Linked DNA regions of Homo sapiens: regions 1, 3, 4, 5, 6 and 7 are each reported to be linked to region 2. Evidence: microRNA targets listed by miRTarBase, many of them from high-throughput screens and not tested one by one. Region 2 holds a microRNA gene; each other region holds the end of a gene's coding sequence. Distances are from middle to middle.
The links. The annotated mature microRNA hsa-miR-3941 reads UUACACACAACUGAGGAUCAUA and lies in region 2 at 2,736-2,757, opposite strand. An mRNA with a match to its seed (bases 2 to 7 or 8) in the 3' UTR can be bound and repressed. Matches are read on the target gene's strand: a 7mer-m8 pairs with bases 2 to 8, a 7mer-A1 pairs with bases 2 to 7 and ends in A, and an 8mer does both.

Region 1 (4,062 bases), not on the chromosome of region 2:
GTGGCGCATGCCTGTAATCCCAGCTACTTGGGAGGCTGAGGCAGGAGAATCACTTGAACCCGGGAGGCGTAGGTTGCGGTGAGCCGAAATTGCACCATTGCACTCCAGCCTGGGCAACAGGAGTGAAACTCCATCTCAAAAAAAAAAAAAAAAAAGCCAAGAGGGTATTGTGGTAAGAAAACTAACTTGGCAAAATGTCTAATTTTTATAATTAACTTTGCTCTCCTTACCATTTAACTGTTGGAGATGAAAAAAGAAAGGATGAGAAGTCCATGAGAGAATAGGTAGTGAAATGTTTTTAATGCACACATGCACTCAGACCTTAACTTTTCTATAGGATACAATATGGTGACTTTTATAGAAGAATCTAATTCCTATAGTAGGAGGCTGTTATTTACTCAGATTTGAATTCCTTTTATTTGACATTACATACAAATTACTAAAGCCTTAATAAGGAAAAGTACCAATTCAATCTTACAGCATAAAATTACTTTCATTATATGTCTTCATTAGCTATACTTACTAATTGATATTTAATAGAAAAATAACGATATTCAAAGCTCAGAACAGCAAGTAGTAACCACAATTCCTTTGACAGCACTGGGAGACTTTCCTTTATACATGAATACAAAAATCCAACTTCATTTTCCAACATCTTTAATCAAATTTCACTCACACTATATGAGTTCTATTAGGTTCTCAGGCCTCTCCAAATGCTCATGTCTCAGGAGGGTATCACTATTTGAAATCCTAAACCATTCATTTGCTACTTCTTAACAAAAATTTTTGAAAAGCATGTAAACCACACCCTTATCTTTTGGATTACAATGGTTAGGTACAAAAACAATTCATTTAGCATCTTATAAATCATTAAAGTTATACATAAAAGCACCTACAAATTTTTTTAAAAATAAAAGATTCACAGTGCACTGCACCTTGGAACATATAAGGTTGGAACGTAACATTTAAAAAGTGAATTCCAAGACCTGTATCTCTCTCAAAGACATAAAACATAATGAAGCAAAACCAACTACTCTTCTCATCTAGCATCTTAAAATGCAGCACTCAGTAGAAGTAAATGATTGCATATTCAGCATACTCCTTTATCACTTGATTTCCTCAAACCATACTAAAATTTCTCAAAGGAGAAATCCAGTTCGCTAAGCATGGCCTTTCTCAAGGTAACCTGAACACTGAGAAACTATTACCCAGGTTTGAGAGAATAAGTATAGTAGATGTACCTAAAACAAGTACATCCAACTTAAATATTTTCTGCATAGTTAAGTCACATCACACACATAAACTTTAACTCACATCTTTTAACATTTTTTTAACCTCAAACTTTGAGGAGAGCTAAAAGCCTGAAGTTATCATAATCACACCCCAACAGTACCCTTATATTTTGTTCCACAGTGCATTAAATAAAGCAGCGCAACAGCAGTAACATTTAACCATAGTTAAACTACTGTAATCACAAAGATAATTTGTTGGTTCTTGAAAAGGCTCAACACCATTAGAGGCCATACTTCTGGTAACTATAATCTCTTTTGCTTCAGTATTGAGAGCTGAAAAATCCAACTCTACAGGCACCAGGAAGACTGGCCAAAGTATGCACTTAAAAAGAAAAAAAAAAACACATACCAAAAAAATAAAAAACAGTAAAAGTTAAATGGTTTCCAGAAGACAATAAATGAGTGAAAATTATTCATCTGCCAGGCAAACTACATTTTCACTCCTTTAACAATTTACCAGAAGTCTGGAATGCTGGGACCAACTATAAATATGGCTCGAAGAGACCCAAGCAAAGCAGCCGTATTTCTGAAAAGAACAGTAAAAGCTTCCAAACACAATCATATAATGCATTAAAAAGCAAAAGTCACAGGATTCAAAAATTTGTCACATTAAAAGATGCAGGATTCTGAATATCATAATTCTATACACACTGCTTTAATTGTGAATTCTCCTGCTTAGCACCAAAAGGGTGACACTTTCATTAATAAATAGAATTTCTCCTTTAAAATCAAGCCATTTAAAAGCTAAAGCAAAGTACTACCAAGTGAATTCCTTAAATAGCCCTTCTTTTAAAAGTCCCATGAGGTTCAGTGGAACCCAATTAAATAGGCTACCTACACAGAATAAAGATTTCTACAATAACATTTATAAGCAGAGAAGTATTTTGTGGATACCACTGTAAAAAAGGATTTTTAAAACCCACATGATAGTTACACACACACACATATACTCAAACACCCCCGACTCCCAAGAAATTCCTTCAATGAGGTCAGATGCAGCCAAAACACTAAAGCCCCCTTAACGCCCTGGTGATTGTCCTCAGTTATAGCTGAAATCCTCCTTAAAATGGGCACTGCCATCCTTATTTGAATTTAAAAATCCTGAAGCAAAATACATTCCTAGGAGTGAGTTATGTATGTTACTGTTATGTAACACATATACATAACGTGTAACCTAGTGAAATGCTTTATTTGGACTTGGGTAAACTGCATACCCCTTCCCTTCTCGCTCCATCATCCAGGGGCTTAGCAGGTCAATAAAAGCATGTCAGTCTCTGCTACTATTGCGAATTGGAACCTAATGTAACATCAGTTTCCAAAGATCAATACTGGAGATGCAACGTAAAACCTAGTAATATCAGTTTTCCATACATATTTACACAACTGGAATACAGAAGAAATTTCCACAAGAACAAAAGTCTACGAGACTAAAGGGTTGGAGGCAGGACAGTAAAGACATGACCCAAAGTAGCTGCTGGGTCCCAGCCTCCATGCTGTCTGCTACATTTCCTCCAGCAGTCTCACAGGTTTACTGACTGCATGTAACCACAGCTCAAAATCACAGCATCAGCTCCCATCCACTCAAGCCCCTCCAGGCTACAGACTTTGTCCTTTTGAAGCGCTGAGTTCATTTTGGACATGCACATTATATTCCAGAAGCTGCTCAATAAATCCTTTCACTAAAACTCCAGAGGAAGATTAGAGAGCCTCAGTGGTTAGAAGCAGAGAGAAGTACAAAATGCCACCAAAATAGATCACCTGTAATGCTGACGAATGTGACATCTCAGCTCTTGTGTTCATTTAATAATTGGGCATTACTTTAAGTTTCTTTGAAAAACTCCAATATACTATTATTGCAATCACTGTAACAGGTAGATGGAGCATTCCCATTAACTTGGCTACTTGACAGTAACTCAATACATTATTTTCTTAACCAGAATACAAAATAAAACCCACAGTCACACAGAATAAATGCCCTCAAAGAAAGCAACTTAAACTTGTACTGAACACTGAAAAGGTAAATCTGTATAAAAGGTTATAACTGCATTTACAGTGCAAACTCGTGTTTCTTTCTACTCTCTTATAAACAGAAAATGTCTTCAGAAACATTGCCTCCCTGCATTTCTTTAAAACACCTGAGAAAGGTAAGGCTTGAGGAGACACCCACTCAAATTCAACAGGTCTCTGATCCTGGGACATTTACAATACATGTGCTGCTATCAAAGGTCCAAGATTTTCATTATAGCATTATGGTCAAACTTGAAACTCAAAAAGGCTCTGGATGAAAAGGGGAACTTGCAATGTCCATTACATGCCACGGGCTGTCCCTCAGCATGTTCTAGCAACTGGTCTTCACTGGAGCTAGGCAAGTCATATACAGCATCTGTTTAAAGAAAAAACAAAATAAATAAGCTCAGTAACCTTAGTAAGAAATCAAATACTGCCCTTTGCCTTTTGTTACAAAACAATTAGTTTTGAGTATATATTTATCTTCCCAGACTCTAACCCTAAACAGAACCACCAAAATATGTATTTTCCTTTCCATAAACTGGTGGTCAACTGCATTTTCAATCTATTATTATTTCCACATATTCAAAATCTTAATCTCAGCCATTAAGACCCTTGACATTCCTTTGCTTTCAAAATGAGCGTAACTTTACCTCCTGTATGTGCTTTACCTATTTTATGTGCATTCTGTTACAGAAAAATAAAGCTGGGGTTTACCAAGATTTCCAGGAATTTATCACCATAAAGAAAAATCTGGCCAGGC
Region 2 (4,068 bases):
AAATTAGGAAAACTTAAGTATAGTTATAATTACTGACCTTTAAAGGTTTTCAGCTTTATCTGCAATTTCTAAATACTAAAAATATTCCTAATTATTAAAACTACTGTTGATGATGGGGGCACACGTCAATTTCCCCACCAAAACTGAACTCCTGAAGGCCAGAGAACTTTGCTAATTATTCTCTTTTATTTTCAGTTCCCAGAACAGTGCACCAGGTTCATGGAGAGCTCAATGAATGTCTGCTGCATGAATGACTCTTCCCGGGAGTATTGGCTTTAAATAAAATCTATGAGACAACCTGCTAACCAAGCACAAGGATAGCCTCCTGAGACAACAAGGCAGGTACTTTCTGAACCAAGTAACTACTACTTCCAGTTGAGGCTCTTAAGCTTTGAGAAAGCCCCATACTAAAATGGCATTTCTTGCTATGCTATGCCATTTTTCATTCATTCAAAGACACTTATTGTCTATCAAGTGCCAGGCCCTGTGATCATAAAAGACTACAAGAGTCTTTACCCTTAAGAAGCTCATTTAATTTAGTTGCAAAGACAAGAATGCACGTGATTGCAAAACTCTGGGAAGAGCATTATGATACAAGTATGCATAGGGTACCACAGGGCATATAAAGAGAAGACACTTAACCCAGAGTCTAAAAGCTTCCCAGAAGAGCTGACTCCTGAGGTGAATCTTAAAATATCCCCTTCCTATACACTAGTGCTCTGCTGGCCAATACAGTGGCCATTGTGTGTAATGATGTAAATATAAATTAATTAAAATGAAATTAAGTCAGTTCCTCAGTCACACTAGCCACATTTCCAGCACTCAACAGCTACATGTAGCTAGTGCCCTTGGACAATACAGATACGGCACATTTCCATTTGTGCAGAAAGTTCTAATGGACAATGCTGTTCTGGTGACTTCATTCAAACAAAGTATAAGTTCCCTTCTCAAAGATCCCATACAAAAAGAAGACGTAGGATAGACATTTATACTACAGAATTGCATTCAATGTCTCCAATAAGCTATTTCAGGACTCAGATCACCCTACAATATTTTAAATAAGGATGCAACTCAAACAAGGCGAAGAGGGAATTTCAATTTCTGATTCTACCTTCAGGGAAGATAAAAACATCTTATGTGAAGTGATTTATGAGTCAATGTGAAATAGGTAAAGAAAATCTCAAGAGAAAGAAATACAGAGGGTTAAATATTGACTTTTACAGACAGAATTCTTTACACCACTTTCCTCACTGTAATGTTACTCTTTTTCCCCTTGTACAATACTTAATACCTATTTTAGTAGATAGGTACTTTGAAACTATGTAAATATCTCATTCCTCATCATATATACAGATATACATTCATTCACCAAAAAGTATTGTTTCTCTGAAAAGACTTGGCTTCTATTATACTTAATATAGTTCCTGATTTTATAAATCACTGTGTATGTGACCATTCTCCCATCTCTGCCACCACCCCTTCCCCATGTGGATGCCCTTCTCTCCCTACTCCACGTGGGGCTAACCCCCCAAGAGGACAGCCCCTTTAGAGGAAATTTATAGACTAGAGGATTCTGAGATCTTCAGATCTTTCAAGGTGGAATGCTGCTTTGAAGATAGGATCTTTTTACTTAAAAATGTATTTAAGAAAAATATCATTAACCAAAAGCATCACAACCAAATAAACTATATTTACCTCTAAAAACTAGACTTATTCTGAAACTACAGAACAGTACAAGAAATTATATATAATCACTACATTGCAACACTTTTCAAACATTCTTATAGCAACATTTATGACGTAACAACATACCAGTTCAGATTTGAAGTAGCCTATTGTGTTTTCATCCAATTGAAAATATCTTCTCTTCCAGTTTTTCATCTACCAGAGATGAACACAGACATAAGACTTGTGTTTCTAAGAATGTCAAATGTTAGTCACCACTTAATTACCCTGATATGAACCCACAATCAGACATGCCAAGCAGTGAAAAATCTCATTACTTCCCTTAGAGATGCGATAAATTAAACCTCATCCCTCTCTAGCTACCCAGGCTTTGAATTCCTAATTCAATTTCTGGTGCCTGGCTTTCATCTTTTATTGTATGATTTTATGTGTTTTTTTTTTTTTTTTTTGAGACAGAGTCTTGCTCTGTCACCCAGGCTGGAGTGCAATGGCGCGATCTCGGCTCACTGCCTCTGCCTTCTGGGTTCAAGCAATTCTCCTGCATCAGCCTCTCGAGTAGCTGGGATTACAGGCTCCCATCACTATGCCCAGCTAATTTTTGTATTTTTAGTAGAGACAGGGTTTCACCATGTTAGTCAGGCTGGTCTCAAACTCCTGACCTCAGGTGATCCGCCCACCTTGGCCTCCCAAAATGCTGGGATTACAGGCGTGAGCCACCATGCCTGGCCTATTTCATATTTTTAATGTTGAAACTTTTTTTTTTTTTAAAAGCACTTCCCCTTCCTCCTACTCCTCGCCCCCGCCAACCCCATGTAAAGAGCAAACACAGGAAATGTTATTAAACCACATCAAGTTTCTCCATCTGTAAAAACATATGAATTCTTCCACAAGTACTTTATACATAGTAGTAAAGCACTAAATATTTAATAAAGTAAACCTATTTTGTACAAATATTTTTTGTCAATAAAATAACAGTTTTTGCAGAAGCACTTAAATATCTCTGACTGGTATTTTGGACTTAAGAGTAAAACAAAAAGGAACCATCAGGCTATGATCCTCAGTTGTGTGTAAAATTAGGGCTTTCAATCTACACACAACTGAGCATCACAGCCTGATGAGAATTCTGACTCTACCTGCAGACATTGTACAGTAAGAAACCCCTGCCCTCACCATCATTTTCCTCAGCCTAAAGCAGGTCAAACAGGTGAAAGGACATTCCCCTGGCTGCCCTAAAAAAATTAAGAGTTGCCAAAAAGTGATGAGAAGTCAAACAGAACCACCAAAATAATTTTAAGTATTTCTTTACTCACAGACTTAAAAAACATTTTCAAACTTTAAAGTTAATTTTCTCATGAAATTCTAAAGATTTAGTTCACATAGAAAGAATGGCTTAGATACTAAGGTATGTTGCAACCTTAGAAATATTGGTAAATTTACTTGCTCTTGCAAAAAATTCATCATGGAACTGATTATATGGGAATACCTGGGCTAACCCATAACAGCTTTTACTAAGTACCAGGTGCTGTGCAAAGGGAAACACACCTTTCTTATTTACATCTCTTAAAAAACAAAAACAAAACAAAACAAAACCCTAGATGGTAGGTTTTATATGATATTCCTTAAGACAGAAACTGAGGGCCTGAGAGGTTAAGTAAGTAGCCCAAGGTCAGAGAGCTTACCACGGAGGTCAGGCCAATGCCTAAACAAGGAAGAGACCTCCTAGGCACCACTCCTTCTCCTGCCGCTGGCCTGCCATCTCCCCACAACAGCTCTCTTTCCCTGACCCACTCCTGAGTATGAGTAAAGATGAATAGAAACACTTTCTAAAACATTAAACTGTTAGGAAAGCTCATTTAAACTGAAAGTCAGTGGTAATGGGCATTAACTTTCCTGGCCCCCTGCAAACCAAGCAAATAACAGCATTGAATTATAAACAGAGAATATCCCCTATTTTATCTCCTGACTCTCCTCAGCATGCCGGTCTCTCACTTTGGGTCTTTCATAAAATAAAGCAAACAATTTCCATGTTAATTTGAGTTTGCTAGAACGTAATCCTTTTTCATTATTTCATGTATTTTGTTAAGCTACTCACCACTGCTCCTTGTTTTACACAATATCCAGCTTTGATAACCGCACTATCTTGAGGTGGTTTAGGAGTAAAGTAAGGAAGATGGCTTTGTGACCGTTTCAGATTATTTCTGTCAATACTTTCACCACATTCATTTACTTCTTCTTTCTAAAATGAAGCAAAATAAATAAATTATTTTCTTGCTTGTTTAGCATACTTTTATTTCATATTATCCCAGTAGAAAATCTTAAAATCCACCTTAGATTAGTCAGAAACAGATTTTTGAAGAGTTTTCTAATTAATCTGAGATACTT
Region 3 (4,068 bases), 31 Mb from region 2:
CGCCGTCGCTGCTGCTGCTGCTGAGTGGTTGCCTCCTCGCGGCTGCTCGGAGGGAGAAAGGGGCGGCTAGCAACGTGGCGGAGCCGGTCCCCGGGCCCACTGGCGGCTCCTCGGGTCGCTTCCTCAGCCCCGAGCAGCACGCGTGCAGCTGGCAGCTCCTGCTGCCCGCCCCGGAGGCCGCAGCGGGCAGCGAGCTGGCGCTGCGCTGCCAGAGCCCGGACGGGGCGCGCCACCAGTGCGCCTACCGCGGGCATCCGGAGCGCTGCGCAGCCTACGCCGCTCGCCGCGCGCACTTCTGGAAGCAGGTGCTGGGAGGGCTGCGCAAGAAGCGGAGGCCCTGTCACGACCCCGCGCCGCTCCAGGCCCGCTTGTGCGCGGGCAAGAAGGGCCACGGCGCCGAGCTGCGGCTAGTGCCCCGCGCGTCCCCGCCCGCACGCCCCACCGTCGCGGGATTCGCGGGGGAGTCCAAGCCCCGGGCCCGGAACCGGGGGCGGACCCGGGAGCGTGCGTCCGGCCCAGCCGCTGGGACCCCGCCTCCCCAAAGCGCACCGCCCAAAGAAAACCCCTCAGAGAGGAAGACCAACGAGGGCAAGAGGAAGGCGGCCTTGGTCCCCAACGAGGAGCGACCCATGGGGACCGGGCCCGACCCCGACGGGCTGGACGGGAACGCGGAGCTCACGGAGACCTACTGCGCTGAGAAGTGGCACTCCCTCTGCAACTTCTTTGTCAATTTCTGGAACGGCTGAGACTGCCTGCCGGCTTAGGGAGGGTTGATGGGGGAGGCGTGGGGAAGGGAAAGCTAAGGGCGTCTTAGACCGGGGGGTACTGTGATAGAGATTGGGGAGAAGTCCAGGTTCTCGAATGGGGGTGGGGGCAAGGGTAAGGGTGAGATGCTTGGGATGAGAGTGTAAGGGGTATGGAGAATCTCTGGGATAGCAGAGAAGTTAAAAATTTTGAAAAGTCTCAGTCCTGATTAAGAGCAGGAAAAATAATGGAAACAGAAATAGGCGTACTTTAAATGTGCAAAAACTGGAGACTGGGGAGAGAAATCGATGCAGAGGGAGGCTGAGAATAAGGGGGAGATAGAGTGACTAAAGTGATGTGAGTCCCATGTGGGGAGGGGGATGCAATGTTTATTGTTTAACATTTCTATTAAATGCAGCCATGAGCAATTGCCAACCTGAGCCAGGTTGAATCAATGTCTTCTCACTTAATCAGCTAACAAGACTGCAGACTTTTTTTCCGTTTCTGAATTGGTATAAACTTGGATGCGGCGTGGTGGGTGTCATAGATAACCTCTATAGGGACAGAAGCCTCACAGGTCAAAACTGGCTCCAAGGAAAGTTTTGCAGAATGATTTCCTTTCCATTCTTTTAGAAGAGCTACCTTTTTTTTTTTTTTTCCCTGACAGGGTCTGGCTTGCCCAGGCTGGAGTGCGGTGGCTAGTCACAGGTGTAATAATAGGCACTGCAGTCTCCAACTCCTGGCCTCAAGGGATCCTCACATCTTAGCCTCCAGAATAGCTAGGAGTAGGAGTAGCTGGGACTACAAGCATGCACAGCTGCACTTGGCTTAGAAGTGCTACTTTATTTTTATTTTTGAGACAGGGTCTTGTGTCATCCAGACTGGAGCAGTGGTGCAATTATGGCTCACTGCGGCCTCGACATTCCAGTCTCAAGTGATCCTCTGCCTCAGCCTCCGGAGTAGCCAGGACTACAGGGGTGTGCCACTAGAAGTGCTACTTTTTAACGAAATGGTGACTAATGTTCTGGAACTTTCCCATTAACCTTCTGCATTTAGAAGGAATTATAGATGTTGAGTGCTCCAGTAAACAGTGATTCTCTTTATATCTGATTTTTTTTTTTAAACAGCTAAAATGTAAGTATGTATCTCAGAGTCATTTTGACCATTATGGAAGTTGTATCTCTCTGTTTCATGTAACTAATTATTAATATATTTCATTTTTAGTGTGATGTAATGAGAGACTGTGTGTGTATGTTAGGTGCTCAATAAAAACTGTATGGTTAGATTTAAAGAAGTGGCAAGGCAATGGAAATTCTACCTGCATTTGATCTACTTCCAAGTACACCTTGAATTAAGTTCTTAAACACATCTTGAATTGCTGGGAAAAGACAGAAACTAAGAAGTTGACATAAAGCAAGAGTCACAAACTGGCAGCCACCTGGCCTTATCATTGTTCTATTTGATTTGCACCCTGGTTCTCTTTCTTTTTCCCTTCCTCCCCACCTTCCTCCCATCCATTGTTGAATCTGTGGATGCAGAGCCCACGGATGTGGAGGGGCAACTATATATATGTTTTTCCATTATATATATAAATGTGTGTGTGTGTATATATGTGTGTGTGTGTTGCAACCACTTATTTGGGAACTTGAAGTTAAATCCTCATGGTCATTCCCTTAACAAGGTGAGATCGCTTTATTCTGAATATTTTGGTCCTCCATTTGAAGCATACCATTGCATACTATATTAAAACAACAACTTCATAGTCCTTGCACCCTAAACACCTATGATCTCAACACAAAATTTGTTCATAATCAGTTAAATTCTAATTCTTCAAATAAGAGTAAATCATTACTTTATTATTCTCAACTCTACAAGTTACATATGGTGGCAGACTATAAGTATATAATATAGTTACTTACATGATCCCTACCTCCTGGTATTCTCACCTCTGTGTATTCCCCTTTCTTTGATTATGCGCAGGGCCTGTGAATTGCTTGTAAGCATGGTGGGTACACTATCATCTGAAAGATGTATCTTAGTTTTCCACATTCTGCTGATTGAAAGAAAACCCTGGGTAAGTTCCAATCTTGCTATTCAACAGGACAAGGTTCAAGGCCAAAACAAGAGTCCCAGAAAAGGTCAAGCTAGAAGCAGCAGGGAGTCAGGCCAACCTGAGTAGAAATGAACAATGGAGGCTCTAGGGAAGAATCAATTTCCTTGCCCTTTCCAGCTTCTAGAGCTGTCCACATTCCTTGGCCCTTGGTTTTCTTCCATCTTCGAAGCCAACTATCATCTCATTCCAACCTCTGTTTTTTTTTTTTTTTTTTTGAGACGGAGTTTTGCTCAGTCGCCCAGGCTGGAGTACAGTGGCGCGATCTCGGCTCACTGCAAGCTCCACCTCCCGGGTTCATGCCATTCTCCTGTTTCAGCCTCCCGAGTAGCTGGGACTACAGGCACCCGCCACCACGCCCGGCTAATTTTTTGTATTTTTTTTTTTTTTAGTAGAGACAAGGTTTCACCATGTTAGCCAGGATGGTCTCGATCTCCTGACCTCGTGATCCGCCCGCCTTGGCCTCCCAAAGTGCTGGGATTACAGGCGTCAGCCACCGCGCCCGGCTCCAACCTCTGCTTTTATCATCACATCTCCTTCTCTGACTCCCTCTTTCTTGCCTCGCTCTTTTTTTTACTTAAAAAGACGCTTACAAATACACGGGGCCCATTCAAATAATCCAGGATAATTTTTCAATCTCAAGATCAGTTGGTTAGCCGACTTAATTCTATCTGTAACCTTAATTTCCCATTGAAATCTAATGCAATTTATCCCAATATATTCACAGGTTCTGGGGATTAAGATGTCAACACGGGGCAGGGGTGGGAGAAGTGGGGGCGGCGGGGGGGAAGTGGGAGCATTATTCTGCTTACCACAAGTGGCTACATCCAACAACGTAAACTCCAAAACAAAGGAAAAGGATAAAGAGGGACATTATATAACGAGAGAAGGATCAACTCACAAAAAAGACAACAATCCTAAATGTGAGTGTACCTAACAGTGCAACAAAATACATGAAGCAAAAACCAATAGAATCGAAAGGAGGAATAGATAAATTCGCTATTTTATGTGGAGACTTCAACGTTTCTCTTTCAGTAATAAATAGAAAAAGAAGATAGAAAATCGGTAAGAATATAAAAGACCTGAACAATACTATCAACAAACTTGACCTAATTGACCTTTCTGGAATACTGTATCCTATAACAGCAGAACAGCAGACTACACATTTTCAAATATGCACGGGACATTCACCAATATAGGCCATATTCTGGACC
Region 4 (4,068 bases), not on the chromosome of region 2:
CTGTGGGGAAGGAAGCACTTCCAGGTGGGCACCAGCATAAGCAACAGTCAGCTAAGGGTGTGAAGGAAAAGACTCCCCAGATCAGAGAGCGCTTGGCACTGGGGAGGGCTCAGACATACAATGAGGTGGAGAGGAGTAGGGATGCTAGTGTCGCTGAAGGAGCAGGTCATTATCCACTGTCACCCCTCACTCCATGTCTCACTGCCTTGGTTAAAGCACATTCAGTTTTATGTATCATTTTGATCTTCTCTATGCCCTTGTCAGGTAAGCAGCATAGATACTGTGGGCTTTATTTTTCAGAAATAGTTTAAGAAGGAAATAAGAAAATTGGCCCAAGTCACACAGCTAGCAGTTAACCAGCCTCACAGTTTAGATCTCTGGACTTCTATTTCACAGACCTAAAAATTCACGGTTGTCGCAAAAGACACATAGCTGAATTTCCCTATTTTACAAATAAAGAAACTGAGGACCACAGAGGTGAAGAAATTTTTCCAAGGTCACACAGAAGCAGAATTTAGGAGGTGAGCTGGAAGCGACTTTACCCAGCCTTATTTCTGATAGATGTTGTACATTATTTGAGGAAGCAGGGAGAAAAAATCCTCATATTGCCGAGAAAGAACAGTTACTTCAACAAAACCAAATATCTTCTAATGTTTAATAACTGTCAGGATAACATTCTGTTAGCATAACTGCATTTATAAAAATGGAAATTGTTATCAACCAAAAATTAGAAGTTTTTTAAGTGAAAAAAATTCTAGAAAGAAATCAAGCTGCTTGAGGAGATGGATCTATCTGGGAAGAAAGGCCTCCCCAGTCTACAGGAGCTCCTTGGAACTTTTTTCTGCCACTGATGAATTTTTAGGTCTTTGTTGATCAGAGAAAAAGTTGTATTTTTAACTTTTTTTAAAAAAAACTAAACATTGGCTCCAAACTGATAGACTCTCATCTCAGAATCTGTTAGCAAAGGATAACTAATGTTTGCAGACAAGAACACCATTCAGATGACACATTATTATAATTTATTTTACACTAGAAATGACATGGCTTGAGAAATGACTTGCTGAGAAATCTGTGTTTACATTAGGGAGATTGGGGGGAAAATCCCTCACAGAAGTTGAAAACATGCTAAGTGGTAAATACCAAAATGCCCAGCAAGCATTTAAGCCGGCTCTCATCCTAGCATGAATATGGGCAGCTCAGCATTTTAAAATTTACTTTTAGCTTTTCTAGCAGTTTGAATTAACCCTTTCTCTACTTCCACTTTCTCTGTGAGAGTTCAGCTCTTAATCTGCAGACGTGGACTGAGGGTGCTGTCACGGTGCTCGGTGATCCACTGGTGAATGATGTCCTCACCTGAAGCAGTTTCCTACAAGTGGGCTGCCTTGTGTACATGTCTCCTAAGCTTCCTTACTATCCATGTAAGGCCTAGACAAACATTAGGAAGCAAGTTCAGCTTGTATGGATTGGAAAAGGCCTGTCAGTAGAGCAAAACAATACAAATCAATGTCACAATAAAGGTATATCCAGACCAGAGGTTCTCCAGAGCAGAATCACCCCCAGAGAGACTGTGTCAGGTGGCCCCAGCATCTGTAGCTGTAAACGATCCTCAGGTGATTTTAAGTATATCCCTCATTCAAAGACACACTAATCTAGACTCTCTAAAAAGCCAATGACATTTTAATCTTCGTTTCAGCTCCTAGCAAATGAAAGCAAAAAACAAAACAAGCAACCAAAAAAAAAATTGTTCCAGGTTAGGTTTATCTTAATACTTAACTGGCTATGAAACTTATTTACAGCCTTAGTGAATACCAATTATATACAAGAAAGGTGAGCATTTAATGAATATTCGTATAATACTTTACAATATCTTATCATGCATTAATGATCTCATGTGGTTCTCACAGCAACCCTATGAGGTAGCTTGTTAGTTTCAAATTAAAGATGAGGAAAATAAGTCTCAGGGACATGAAGACTCGCTCAAGAGCCCTCAAAGAGTACAGCAGAGCAGCTGTGGGGTTGAGAAGCAGAGGGGTAAAATGACCATTGTTTTATTACTATAGGTCAAAAAGAAATTTTAATGTTTAAATATCTCCTATAGCTTTTTAGAAAACTTCTAATTACTATGCCACACTTTGCTGGTAAAACATATTATCTCACAGTAAAATATTGTGTTTTTTCTTTGTTTTACAACTATCTACACAAACACCCACACATACACACACACACACACACACACTCACACTCACTCTCTCTCTCTCTTTTGGAGTAAAACAGAAATAATCTATTGTTCCTGAGTTTGATTGTGGGAAAATCACTTAAGATAGGTCATGTTTATAACACCAGTTTCAGGGACAGGTAAATCCAGTAATTTAATTTTTATATATCTTACATTAAAATGAACACACAAATACATTTCTCCCTCAATCTCCATGTCAGACAAATGGAAGTGAAGTACTTGGCCTAGAAAAGAATAACCTGCAAGTGCCCTAATAATGTTGGTATTCCTAGTATTAATAAGTTAGATTTGTTTTTTTGCTATTTATAGTGATGTGTCTTTTTTTTTTTTTTTTTTTCCCCGAGACAGTGTCTGGCTCTGTCACCCAGGCTGGACTGCAGTGGCACAGTCTCAGCTCACTGCAACCTCTGCCTCCTGGGTTAAAGCCAACCTCCCACCTCAGCCTCCTGGGGAGCTGGGACTACAGGAACACACCACCATAAACAGGCAAATTTTTGTATTTTTTTGTACCGACAGGGTTTCACCATGTTGCCCAGGCTGGTCTCGAACTCCCAGGATCAAGTGATGCTCCCACCTTGGCCTCCCAAAGTGCTTGGATTACAGGTGTGAGCCACCATGCCTGGCCATGATGTATCCCTTTGAAGTGTTTCTTCTAAACATTCAGCCTATCAAACACCAGTTGCTGTAGACATTTGTGTCCAAGGGAAAAATAATCCATGTCACATCTTGGTGAGATGAAATATTCCATGGTATCAGTCCTATTAAAGCCAGGGCTGGCCAGGTAAACTCTTGGCATTCTTCGTGCCGCAATTCCTAAACTCAATAGAAGAATCTGAAGAACATAAAACAAAAGCCAAGAGAATAAAAGAAAAATAACTGAGCAGTAAAGACTTATTTAAGAATATCAGTACTAAAATAAAACTATCCATTCCTGTCACTGAGTGCATGCTACTTACAGCAAAGTAAAATATTTCCTGAATTGGTGGCCCCCAACCTTTTTGGCACCAGGCACCAGTTTCAGGGAAAACCATTTTCACAGACCGAATGGGAGATGGTTTCAGGATGAAACTGTTCCACCTCAGATCATCAGGCATTGGTTAGAATCTCATAAGGAGCGCGCAACCTAGGTCCCTCAGATGCGCAGTTCACAATAGGGTTCACATTCCTATGCAGATCCAATGCTGCAGCTGATCTGATAGGAGGAAGAGCTCAGGTGGTAATGCTCGCTTGCTTGCCCACCCAGCTGCCGCTCACCTCCTGCTGTGAGGCCTGGTTCCGGTCCATGGCCTGGGATTTGGGGATCCCTGTCCTAAATAACTTGGTAGGGGACTGATTGGAAAACTAAAAATTAAGTCAGGGTTTGCCCACTAAAGATGAAAGCAAATTTTGCATTTGGTGGGATGAGTCTAAATGCAATGGAGACATTGATCTTTGTAACGGCAAAACATTAAATCCAGGCTTTTCTTTTACCTTGTTAAGGGACATTTCGTTCATCCTGAGACGTTGCTTTGGCATAACTCAGAGGTAGATTCAGCCCAACAACTGGCCCTACAATGCTCAGCCATGATGTGATATAGTTGACATTCCTAGGAAACAAGTGAAATACAGGCCATGCTAACGTTTCCATTGTAGTTTTTGGATGAATGGTAGAACATCAGTTGGTCACCAACAATAACAAAAGTGAGGCTTTCTTCAAAGATTTGTACCTACCACCTGGAATCTCAGCATTTCTGAATGCCAGCCCCATTGCTTGACAAGAATTTAAGGTCCAGAGAGCCTGTAAGGATCCCTCATTAGGGTAGTTGAAGAATGAGGTAAGGTACTGGCTCCTG
Region 5 (4,068 bases), not on the chromosome of region 2:
CTGGACTGATGTGTTTTCTAGTTTCAAGGCTTATATGAAACTTTTCAGGCACTTTTCAGAGTTTATACTGAATATAGGGTGTTATATATGTATATATATATATACTGAGTAGATAGCCAAATCTGAACATGCTGCTCTTTCCCGGGTGCCTCTCCTTTGCCAGTTTTTTGGACACTGAAAAAACAGGGAGCTTGACATAAATTTTGAAAGTTCAGGCTGGGCGTGGTGGCTCACACCTGTAATCCCAGCACTTTGGGAGGCCGAGGCGGGTGGATCACCTAAGGTTGGGAGTTCCAGAGCAGCCTGGCCATTATGGTGAAACCCCGTCTCTACTAAAAATACAAAAATTAGCTGGGTGTGGTGGCACGTTCCTGTAATCCCAGCTACTCGGGAGGCTGAGGTAGTCGAATCGCTTGAACCTGGGAGGTGGAGGTTGCAGTGAGCCGAGATCATGCCACTGCACTCCAGCCTAGGTGACAGAGCAAGACTCTGTCTCAAAAAAAAAAAAGAAAGTTCACTAATCTTTGGAGTAAACAAAGCAAATGTAAGACTTCTGAACGATTGTGTGATCTTCAAATGTTCATCAGCTAGAAAAGGTCTGTTTATTGTTTAAGAGTTACTCATTTGCCAGACATTTTTTATTTTGTAATTTCTGTTTTTTTTTTTTTTCTACCAGAGCCTACATTCATCAGTACACAAAATTTGGAATCGAAGAAGAGGACTTTTTAGACAGTTTCACGTCATTAGAGCAGGTTGTTGCCAGTTACTGTAATCTCTGATCTTGAACAATGGGAAAAGTATACCTTAAGGCATTTCTGGACTAAAATATTTTCAATACTATTTTCTCTGTAAAGTTTTCAAAGTTCTCCATCCTGGCTAACACGGTGAAACACCGTCTCTACCAGAAAATACAAAAAATTAGCCAGGCGCGGTGGCGGGTGCCTGTAGTCCCAGCTACTCGGGAGGCTGAGGCAGGAGAATGACGTGAACCCAGGAGGCGGAGCTTGCAGTGAGCCGAGATCGCGCCACTGCACTCCAGCCTGGGCGACAGAGCGAGACTCCGTCTCAAAAAAAAAAAAAAAAAAAAATGTTTTCAAAGTTCCATTCTGTTAAAGTAACCACGTAGAATGCTGAGTCTATTCTGCATACTATGCCCACAGAAAAGGAAGAAAACTTTTTAAAATGGAGAATCGCATGTTTTCAATGAAAACATTCACTTGGTATTTCATTTGTAAGAAAAAAAAATGGTGCTTTTATAAAGAACTTTGGGGAAACACTTTGCTGAAATGTTGGGACTCTGGAACTAGCCAAGAAAAGAGAATATTCTCTTTGTCTACATGTTCCTAAATCTTTACTCCAAAACAACTCCAAAAACAACTCACAAAGCATGAACCAAACTTTCACAGCATAATTTCAAGCTAAGGAATTGTAATTCTGTACTTAATATATTCATGTTTGAAATGAATGCTTTGAACCACAGGAGGGAGATGTTGTCAAATGCTACAGTGTGAACATGTATTTTGAATATTCTGTAACAGGGCAAGTTTCCACTCTAAGCAGCTATTTAAAAATAAATATGAGGATTTTGGTAATAAATGCTTATGCTTAAGTACAAAAGTAAATAGGTAAATGTGTACTTAGTGTGCTTTTCTTAAACTTTTTGGGCATGAGAAAATTGGCTCAAATTTTGTTTTGGATCTTGGAATGCCAGAGCAGATATTGATTTTATTCAATTATTGCTTTAAAATTACTTATAATGGGCTGGGCATGGTGGCTCACACCTGTAATCCCAACACTTTGGGAGGGCAAAGTGGGAGGATCACTTGAGGCCAGGAGTTTGAGACCAGCCTGAGAAATACAGTAAGACCCCCATCTCTCCAAAAAAAAAAAAAAATTTTAATTAGCTGGGTGTGGTGGCATACACTTGTGGTCTGAGCTACTTTGGAGGTTTGGGTGGGAGGATCACTTGAGCCTGGGAGGTCGAGGCTGCAGTGAACTGGTATCGTGCCTCTGCATTCCAGCCCGGGTGACAGAGTAAGACTGTCTCCAAAAAAAAAAAAAAAGAATGAAATTACTTATAGGTATTCAGCTGGTACAGATGATGGTTATATGCTTTTCAGTAAAAGGGGTAAGAATTTTCACCTAAATTTTTCACTAAGTTGAGAAAATTATCACCAAGGAAATATAGTTACTTGATGAAATTGACGCACAAGATACGGGTTTCACCCAAGACAAAACGTGCTTGGAAATTGACAACTGAGTTTGAAGGGAATGTTGTATTTCCATAAAACACATCACATGCAATATATTAACAAATGTAAAATGATTAACAAATAGGAACATTTGCCCTTTCTGCCAAATCTACCAATAGTGACTTTTATATGGAAAAATGACAGTTCACAGCTTCACTGGTTCTTCTTTTTCTTTCCATATGGAAATGATTACCTTTTTGCTGTTTTTCTTATCAACTGTTGCTATGATTTAAAATACTGAACCATATCTTATTTGTAAGGAATGTAAAAAGTGGTCGGTTCTGCTGCTAAAAGGCACACCCCGCTGCTGCATTTCGTTAAGCCAAGTACACTTGAAAAATAATTAGATCATAATTTTTACCAAACAAGTTAAAGTAATTGTTTAAGCATTGAAGAGATCCACAGACTGAAACAATTTCCCAGACTAAACCAGCATTCATGAAGATCTGTAACTGAGTATCTCACCAGGGGTTAATCTGATTCTGAGGAACCTTACTAGAAGTTAACTTGAAAGAAAGTCGTAAGTTGAAATCATTTGATATTTGAGAAAATTCATGAGGTACCAATAGGGGCAAGTATATTTCTAATTTGGCAACTCGTGGAATCATTAGCAGGTGAACATTAGAAGCAAATCCCAACTAGACAGAGCTCTGGGTCCATTTACTTATGCTATTTGACCCTTTTTTATGATCCACAACTGCATTATTTGATATGTATGGTTACCTATTACATATATATGTGTGTGTGTGTGTGTGTATGTATTTTTTTTTTTTTTGAGACAGCGTCTCGCTCTGTCACCCAGGCTAGAGTGCAGTAGCATGATCTCAGCTCACTGCAGCCTCAACCTCCCAGGCTCAAGCAATCCTCCCACCTTAGACTCACTAATAACTGGGACTATAGGTGTGCACCACCATGCCCAGCTAATTTTTGTATTTTTGGTAGAGACGAAGTTTCCTCATGTTGCCTGGGCTGGTTTCAAACTCCTGGGCTCAGGCTATCTACCTGCCTCGGCCTCCCAAAGTGCTGAGATTACAGGCGTGAGCCACCATACCTGGCCAATGCCTAAATATTTTAAAGCTTGGGTTAAAACATTCACATGGAAAATAATTTTTTCTTGTCTACTTGGAATAACAAAATTTTTGCTCTTAAAGTTGTGATTTTAAGTTAAAAATTAACACCAAGATGCTGATGTCAAAACTTCAGATGGAGTGGCATTGGAAATGTGCTTTGATTTGTGTGGAGATAATGGCCAGTCAGCCAGGAGGACAACATTGGCTCCCTTAGCTCCTGGGCATACAGATCCAGAAAACTTTGAAAGTGTAATTTCTTAGATTATGGGATAACTGGCACATTACGTTGTCAAACATTATCCTGCAGAGCCAGAATGCACCCCTGTGGACAATGAGCACAGTGTGAATGCATACTGTTTCTTATTGTCAAGCTCTTTCTCTCTTACCTCCCCAATCTTTCCTCAAGAGCTTAAGCTGTAGAACCTGTTTTTTCCCATGCATTCGCCACTTCCAGCCCTGGGATCTCCCCGAAAACTCCCCTCCCCTATCCACCCTTACTATTCAATCTACAACATCTTTCAACATCTTTCTCCTATATTTTACCCATCACTTAGAACTCACTAAGTATGCCAACAATTCACTATTATCAGCCAATTCATCCATTCAACCAGTATCATCTATTCAGTGCCAGGCACTGAGGAAGATGTTAAGGATACAGGGATCAATGCTACCTTGTCTGAAGAAGCTTTTTGGGATGTTTAGTGCTACAATTCTAGCTTCCTAATTATTGCTTGTTATCTTGCCTG
Region 6 (4,068 bases), not on the chromosome of region 2:
GACGCTCTTTGAAACATGTGACGTCCACATTCGCAAGCAGCAGATGGTGTCTGTGGAAGAGACCATCTACATCGTGGGGGGGTGTCTCCACGAGCTGGGGCCCAACCGCAGGAGCAGCCAGAGCGAGGACATGCTCACCGTGCAGTCCTACAACACCGTCACCCGCCAGTGGCTCTACCTCAAGGAGAACACGTCCAAATCGGGTCTTAACTTGACTTGTGCGCTCCATAACGACGGCATCTACATCATGAGCAGAGACGTCACCCTGTCGACCAGCTTGGAACACCGAGTGTTCCTCAAGTACAACATCTTTTCAGATAGTTGGGAAGCATTTCGGCGTTTTCCAGCTTTTGGACATAACTTGCTGGTTTCTTCTCTTTATCTGCCCAATAAAGCAGAAACATGACTGAATTGAATTGGTAGATGAAAAAAACCTGGTTCAAGTTTTTTTTAAAATGTGGTGTCCCATTCCAAGGGAGACCAATTCCTAAAGGGTAAAGAAGGGTTAAAGTAGGTCACATATATACAGTAGCAGCTGTAAATAAGCTTACTTGAACTAATTACTTGAAAACTGGTGGAAAAAAGAGACCAACTTTGTTATTTTTTAAATTATTGATTTTTAAATTATGGGAGCAAATCCATCTCCAAACATGATACTCTTGGGCCAATGACGGATCATCAAAATGTAGATTCATTGTGTCTGTGTGGTAAAGGGCCAAAGTCAATAATTGGGACAAATGGTAAAGATGATTTTAAAATCTGTTGTATTTAGGTCCCTTGACATATCATTAGCACCTTAAGTGAGAGGTTTTCTTTTTCTTATCAGTGTCCTTGACAAGCATTCATATTAACATATTCATTCTCTCTTCTCCATCACCCATACCCACACATACATCTAGTATGTTTAGGGTTCTGTGTTCAGATATTTTGTTTGCACACTACTTTTTAGGAAACTTATAATGATGGAGCCCTACAGTGAATCCTTACCAGTGTTCAGTCCTCCCCAAAACTTGCATAAAAATATTCTTAGCTATTTTTCCAGCCTTTTTTGCAGTTACAAATGCTGGATAAATAGACTGATAAAACCTCTTATTTTATTTATGTGGCAGGTTGCATATTTATGTGGACACATAGGTTGCACTGCTAGGCATTCTGTATTGTTTTAAAGAGGATATATTATTTAGAAAAATGGACATATGAATATTATTAAAAATTGAGTCTTAAATTTAAATGGGAAGGGAAGAAAACACCAAATAAGAAAAAAATTTGCCTTTAAGAGTTACTTTTGTTGAATGTATTTGACTTAGTTCTTATTTTAAGGCTAAAAAAACTTTGTCATATTTAAGTCGGCAGCTTTCTAATTTAATCTTAGCTTTGTAATTCATGTTTTGCTTTTGTGGACTAAGGTAAGGACAGCATTTAAATATTTGTGCTGGAGTGAGGGGAAGAAGCTGTTACAGAAGTGGAATGGTTTCTGGTGGTATTTCTGAAGTTAGGTAAAGTGCTTTACTTGCCTTGGTTGTTAATTGAAATAGAATTCAGCTCAAGCAGTTGTTTTCAGTGAGTGAGTTAACAATAAAAGCTTCTGCCAATCATAGATCAACATTCCTCAAAAATACATACACTCATACTTATGGAAATTTTATTTTGATTGAAAACACTCTGAAATTATCTGATATTTTGTAATGGCATCAGTTAAACTGTGAGCTGGATTCCATCTTTCTGCAGTAACAGCGGGCAGAACCATTTCAGTTAGCATGTGCCTCACTTTAAGAAAGTCCTGTAGGGGAAAAAAAAAACTGTCAGAGCGAATTCATGCATTCAACAAACACTTATGAGTGCCTGGAGTATGCCGTCCACTGTGCAGATGTAGGACAGGGGCTAATCACTTAGAGTTCTTCAGTTTATTAGAGGAGTGACTACAGGTTTTCTTTACAACCATGGCCTCTAGTATACTTAAAATAAGCGTCCAGTTATAAAAAGCCTATTTGCACAACTTTTTGGGAATACTTCTATTAACTAAAATGAGGTAAGCCATTATTTTGGACATAGAAACAGATCTTTGTATCTTGTCACCAAATAATCTTACCTCTAGTCTACTTACAACTTTGTAAGGGTTTCTAAGCTATGCCCATTTATTCCCAAATATTAAGCCCTTAAAAAAATAAAACCTCTGAACCAAAATCTTCCCAGGAATAGTACTTAATAGATTTTAATGTTAATTTATATTCATTGTAGAATTGAATTTCCAGTGACCTGTAATTTCATTACATATATTTTAAAATCTATTTATTTTAGATGGTGTTAACTTTTCGTTGCTGAAGAGCTTAACTTTTTAAAGGCTTTGTCCTATACATTTAGAAGATGAGTCAGTTGAATTAGTACTGGACAAACAGTTGGAGATTAGTTTGCAAATAAGCATATCATATCAAATACAATATTCCAGCCAACCAGTTAATTCTCTTCCTGGTTACATTCATTGGGTCTATTTGCCTAATGTTGACAATTAGATTCTTGGACCAAGTGAGGGTGTACTCTGATCCACAAAGCTCTTTTATAAACCAGGTTTGAGGTTGTGTGTGTGTGTGGGGGTGTGTGTGTGTGTGTGTGTGTATGTTTGCATATTATAGCTCTCTTTAAGACAGACATCTAAAAAGATTTTGGTTATTCTGGGCTGCCAGCAGTACGTGGGAAAGGTGGAATGTGCAATAGGAACAGATCTGTGCATTTTGTGACATCGTCCTTCCTGCTGTGCACATCAGCTGTGATGACATTTTGAGGGTAGTTTTAATTTAGCTCGGTTCTCTTGTTGGTGCCAGTATTACATTGAAGACTACCTATGATAGAGGCAATGTTGCTTTGAAAATCTCCCTTCAGGCGGAGGTTGCAGTGAGCCGAGATTGTGCCATTGCACTCCAGCCTGGGCGACAGTGCAAGACTCTGTCTCCAAAAAAAAAAAAAGAAAAAAGAAAATCCCCCTTCATCCCCCAGGACTGTCCTTTACTCTTTGATAGTATCCCTCTATTTTCTTCCCAATTCTCTAAATGCTTTATCATTTTTTCCTGAGATGCTTCTGAGGGATGCTGACCTCCCACTATGGGGAAAAGGGTTGCTTGGAGGACCTGGGGTGGCAGCCCCCCGACCAGAAGCACCCTATTTTATAGATAGCAGTCTGAATGGTAGAGAGTCCTGTGTGTGGGTTGTTAGAAGGTTGGTTCTTCCTGTTATTCTCTCTGGCTTTCCTTTCAACCCACTTATTTTCAGAGGCCTCTCCCCTTAGCATCCTTTAAAAGGTTTTCTGATGAATGTGTGAAAGAGTTGATTATTTCAACAGTATTGGTTAAGTCACAACGACGAAGTGCTGAGAAGGTTATGGGTACCAGGAAGAAACAAACAGAAGTCTTAAGATTAGAATGAGAACCAAAGAGAATTTAACCCTGCCATTTTTTTTTTTTTAACACCAAGATCCTAAGTAATTCCAAATGCCTTAGATATCAATGAAAGCTACACACCATTGAGATGGGCAAAATTCTTTCTCTACAAAGGGAGTAATCAAGTAAATACCTGTTCTCTTTCAATGGACTGTTGCCTATTGAGCATTGTGGATGATGTGTTTTCAGATTTCCAGGTGAAGTTCTGACCCTACCTGTTTGGCCAAAGACGTAAATTGAGAGGAAAGGCCTTGGTCTTCCTGATCAACCAGCATTTAACGAACAGTGGCTTAATGCAGATCACTCAAGAGGCAGCATAGCAATGTAAAAGGAATATAAGTAGGTGTTGGATGCCTTTTTCCTAGACCAGGAATGGGGAATATATAACACCTGTGCCACCGCTCTTTTAAGGAGGCATTATGAATGAGTGCAGCATTCCTGTCCTCTGTGCCAGGATTTGGTCTTAGAATCCATGTCAGATTGGTGCTTCCAGACATCTATTCCCAGTCCATCAGAGTGAAATGAAGGCTATTTGCCATCCCTGCCTTAGACAGAGGAGTGAAAGAATTAAGTGGGTAGACACCAACCAAAATGACTTTGAAAGCAGTGAGCTGATTGAGCTCCAGTTCTGTGGTTA
Region 7 (4,068 bases), not on the chromosome of region 2:
GGCTGGTGCTTGCCCAAGGTGACCAGGCGAACAAAGACGCCAAGCTGTGGCCTGAGGAGGGGTGCTTGCTGCTCTCACCGTGAGGTTGTGCCTCCCTGGAATGCAGAGGCTGGTGAGTTCATGCTTCTCATCCCCACCTCCCCACCCCACCCACAGCACCTACTCTCAGCCCAGTCCACACCCATCACAAGAAAGGGGCTCTTCCTGAAGGGACCCACAGGATTGGTTTTATTATGGAATCCAGTGCTGGAATCCACATTGTAAAAGCCCTGAGGTGATGTTTCAAGGAAAAGTAATGACAGCAACAACCAAAGTAAAAATTAAGGAAAAAAAGTGACTTCTGGATGTGCAGTCTAAGTCATTTCAGGGGTTTGAACAAAGTCAAACTTATGGTTCTCAGAAAAAATTTTAAACTGTCAAAACAACTTATTAAAACCAATGTAGCAGATACATTAAATAAAAAAACATTTAAATTTTTGTAGAGACAGAGTCTCGTTATGTTGCCCACGATGGTGTCAAACTCCTGGGTTCATGCGATCTTCCTGCTCTGGTCTCCCCAAAGTGCTAGGACTACGGGCGTGAGCCACTATGCCTGGCCGCCAAAATTTTTTTTTTTTGAGACAAGAGTTTAGCTCCTGTTGCCCAGGCTGGAATGCAATGGCACAATCTCAGCTCACTGCAACTTTCACCTCCCGGGTTCCAGCGATTCTCCTGCCTCAGCCTCCCGAGTAGCTGGGATTATAGTCATGTGCCACCACTGCCGGCTAATTTTGTGTTTTCAGTAGAGACAGGGTTTCTCCATGTTGGTCAGGCTGGTCTCAAACTTGTGACCTCAGGTGATCCGCCCGCCTCAGCCTCCCAAAGTGTTGGGATTACAGGTGTGAGCCACTGCGCTCCGCTAAAAACTCTTTAAAGGAGAAAAATCTCCATAATCCCATCATCTTGATATAACATGTTTGTAAATTTCACTTTAAACCATGATCTTTGGGAGGAACGTACTATTCTGGAAACTTTCCAATCCTTACCTTTTCCTGTTGGGTTCTAAATAATCTAGGCAATGAAAAAAGAAGGGGGTTGTTGCTCCTCTTCCCTCTTCTATGGGCAGTGCTTCCCACAGTATGGCCCTCAGATAACCTGTCTCCTATTACTCTATGGGGATGCGAGGGGATGGGGAGGAAGGAAGGGTTTGTGAATACCTTATTTCCCCTGCTGCACACTGTATAAAGCAAAATCTTAGGGCTGGATGGCAGTGACTCCTGGGAATTTGAATTTTTTAAAAATTTTAATTTTTAAAATTATTTAAACAGAGATAGGATCTTGCTCTGTTGTCCAGACTGGTCTTGAGCTCTTGGGCTCAAGTGATCTTCCCGCCTCAGCCTCCAGAATAGCTGGAACTACAGGTGCAAGCCACTAAGCCCAGGTGAATTTGAATTTTTTTTTTTTTTTTTGAGACGGAGTCTTGCTCTGTTGCCCAGGCTGGAGTGCAGTGGTGCGATCTTGGCTCACTGCAACCTCCGCCTCCTGGGTTCAGGTGATTCTCCTGCCTCAGCCTCCCGAGTAGCTGGGACTACAAGCATGTGCCACCATATCCGGCTAATTTTTGTATTTTTAGTAGAGATGGGGTTTCACCATTTAGCCAGGCTGGTCTCGAACTCCTGACATCTGGCAATCCACCTGCCTCGGCCTTCCAAAATGCTGGGATTACAGGCATGAGCCACCATACTCGGCCATGAATATGAATTTTTAAGAGGCCTGCCACACCCTCCTTGCCCCTAGAGTTTGTAGCACCTTTAGGTTTGAGAAGCAAACCTAATCTTACAGTAAAGAATTAAAGAGTCTTTGACACTGGCCTTCTTGACGAACAAGGGTTGAAAAGCTGATGTATACCAGCTGTGTAGCTTCTGCTTTAATCCAGGTAAAGAAAGTTGAAGACCTAAACAAATGCATGTATTGCTTGCAAGAATGGTGGTGAGTGACTCTATCATTATTCTTATGTCGGGGAAGGAAGTCTTTTTCTTGTCAGAGATGACTGTTTAGGTTTTGGCAGTTCAGTAATGAGTATGCTGTATAAATGACCATACATTGAAATTTTAAGGGCTGTTATGAAAAGCAGGGGCAAAAGCCACATCAATGGAGTAACTTGCTCGCAAAACAAAGGGATAGAGTAGCAGCATGATTATTTTACTTTTACCAAGCCTCTTTCTAGCTCTGTCAGTTCTTTATTTTGCTAAGCCATGACTCTCCCATGCCTTTTACAGCAAGTTGGGGGACCAAACAAATGAATGTGAATGGGAATAAATGGTGGTACTTCAGAGCAGAATGCTCAGAAGCAGAACATCTCTTATTTATGTAATTTGTGATTTTCCTTAGTAATAGTGGCAAAAACTCATTTTGTTCCCGTATGAAAATTAACCAATATTAGTCAGGCACAGTGGCTCATGCCTATAATCCCAACACTTTGGGAGGCCAAGGGGGATGGATCACCTGAGGTCAGAAGTTTGAGACCAGCCTGGCCAACATGGTGAAAATATAAAAAAATTAGCCAGATGTGCTGGCACGTGCCTGTAGTCCCAGCTACACGGGAGGCTGAGGCAGGAGGATCACGTGAGCCAGGGAGGTGGAGGCTGCAATGAGCCAAGATCGTGTCACTGCACTGCAGCCTGGGTGACAGAGTGAGAGCCACACTCCATCTCAAAAAAAAAAAAAAAAAAAAGAAAAAAGAAAATTAACCAGTATTATAAACTGAGTTACTTCCAAAGTCCAAACTTCAACTGCTGCTGGAATTTGCCTATACCGCCCCAAAGCACTTTTTCACCTACGGGCACCAAACGACTGTCTATTTCCAATTCTATGATATATATGTTTTTCTCTCCACACTTTACCATCTCTGAAATTGGGGTGTCTTACAACTGTTGATATGACAGAGTTTAATTGGCAGTATTTTTTCTTAATGATACATAAAATAATGGTTCATATAATAATCAAAGGAATCACAGATTTGATGAAATATGGTAGATGCTACCAGAACACTTTGGGAAAACTGGTAACTAAACATCCCAGGGAATGAATATGAGATTGATCCTTATCCATCTGAACACTTCATTCAACACCAACCCATGTGCCAGGTAAAAAAATCCACTGGTCTTATAATTTCACAATTGCGTTCTAGTTCCCAAAACAGACTTGCTCTCCGACAGAGACAGCTGTGCAGGAAGTGAGCCTGCTTCTCTGTGGGCTCATCTTTGCTGTCACAAACAACTGGATGAATCTTTCCTACCAAGTTGTTGCGGTGAAGGGCCTCTGGGGTTGACATACAGTTAGACATACTCATTGACAGCACAGAACCCAAAAGGCTGCCTCTGGAATTATTACCTGGTCATTCTCTAACTTGGAATGCAGCTGGCTGGGGTGGTGGAGCCCATCGGAGACAGTCTTGCCGCCTGTTTTATTTGGTAGACTCCTCCTACTGGAAAGCTCTCCAGCAGAAGAATCTGTCAAACCATCAAAATCTTTTCCCTCTGACACTCCCATAAATTCTGTGAAAGAATGGTCTTCAAGGATGTTGGTGGTGTGTTCTACCGTCACCTCCCTGGGGCAGAATCCCCTGGCTGGCTGGCTAATTTTGCTGGGGCAGGCATCTAGTTCTGAACATGAGCCAGTCCTGCACAGTGATTTGGAGTTTTTCTCAGGGATGCTCTGGGATGATGGGCTCCCTTTGGCTAAGGCACTGTTTTCCTTGAGTGGCACCACAATTATCTTGTCCTTTACCAAGCCTTTTTCGACTTCTGTCAACTCTTTGTTTGAGGACGGCCTGAAATCATGCACAAGCGATGGTGTGGAGTGCTCGGTGGAGTCTGCATCCTTCGTCTGAATGGCCAGCTGGTCTGAGCTGTCACTAGAAGGGACCACCATGTCAGACAGGGTGGCATTGGAGGCACTGTGGGAAAAGTAGCCACTGGTAATACTGCTGGTGGTAGGGCTACGGGACACTTCTTTCTCCAAGACCCGTGAGTTTGACAGATCTACTTTAGAGGAAAACCATTCCCTGTTCTCCAAGCTGGCATTGTA

Region 1: the mRNA of DCP2 is a reported target of hsa-miR-3941. Seed matches in the 3' UTR shown: 7mer-A1 at 2,668-2,674, 8mer at 2,223-2,230 and 7mer-m8 at 1,937-1,943.
Region 3: miRTarBase lists FGFBP3 as a target of hsa-miR-3941. Seed matches in the 3' UTR shown: 7mer-m8 at 1,990-1,996 and 7mer-m8 at 2,345-2,351.
Region 4: miRTarBase lists ATG10 as a target of hsa-miR-3941. Seed matches in the 3' UTR shown: 7mer-m8 at 2,214-2,220.
Region 5: the mRNA of TUBD1 is a reported target of hsa-miR-3941. The part of its 3' UTR that is shown has no 7-base or 8-base seed match.
Region 6: miRTarBase lists KLHL42 as a target of hsa-miR-3941. Seed matches in the 3' UTR shown: 7mer-m8 at 2,608-2,614.
Region 7: the mRNA of KIF13A is a reported target of hsa-miR-3941. The part of its 3' UTR that is shown has no 7-base or 8-base seed match.

Annotation. Positions count from the first base shown.
Region 1 is chr5:113,012,934-113,016,995 of GRCh38, reverse strand. It overlaps DCP2 (decapping mRNA 2), which reads right to left. Exons shown (of 11, transcript NM_152624.6): 11 at 1-3,675. The coding sequence ends at 3,512. Among named protein-coding and RNA genes, the nearest start is that of DCP2, 38 kb to the right of the region's middle.
Region 2 is chr10:122,415,713-122,419,780 of GRCh38, reverse strand. It overlaps MIR3941 (microRNA 3941), which reads right to left and starts at 2,816; the gene lies at 2,714-2,816. PLEKHA1 (pleckstrin homology domain containing A1) reads right to left here. Exons shown (of 12, transcript NM_001001974.4): 7 at 3,779-3,922; 8 at 1,813-1,881.
Region 3 is chr10:91,904,871-91,908,938 of GRCh38, reverse strand. It overlaps FGFBP3 (fibroblast growth factor binding protein 3), which reads left to right. Exons shown (of 2, transcript NM_152429.5): 2 at 1-2,355. The coding sequence ends at 746. FGFBP3-AS1 (FGFBP3 antisense RNA 1) reads right to left here and starts at 810. Exons shown (of 2, transcript NR_199602.1): 1 at 690-810; 2 at 1-42. RefSeq lists an enhancer at 1-107 and a silencer at 11-580.
Region 4 is chr5:82,253,068-82,257,135 of GRCh38, reverse strand. It overlaps ATG10 (autophagy related 10), which reads right to left. Exons shown (of 8, transcript NM_031482.5): 7 at 3,707-3,822; 8 at 1,003-3,068. The coding sequence ends at 3,711. Among named protein-coding and RNA genes, the nearest start is that of RPS23, 23 kb to the left of the region's middle.
Region 5 is chr17:59,857,033-59,861,100 of GRCh38, reverse strand. TUBD1 (tubulin delta 1) reads left to right here. Exons shown (of 9, transcript NM_016261.4): 9 at 677-1,622. The coding sequence ends at 779. Among named protein-coding and RNA genes, the nearest start is that of MIR21, 18 kb to the right of the region's middle.
Region 6 is chr12:27,797,761-27,801,828 of GRCh38, forward strand. It overlaps KLHL42 (kelch like family member 42), which reads left to right. Exons shown (of 3, transcript NM_020782.2): 3 at 1-4,068. The coding sequence ends at 406. Among named protein-coding and RNA genes, the nearest start is that of MANSC4, 20 kb to the left of the region's middle.
Region 7 is chr6:17,760,783-17,764,850 of GRCh38, forward strand. KIF13A (kinesin family member 13A) reads right to left here. Exons shown (of 39, transcript NM_022113.6): 39 at 2,911-4,068. The coding sequence ends at 3,328. Among named protein-coding and RNA genes, the nearest start is that of NUP153-AS1, 56 kb to the left of the region's middle.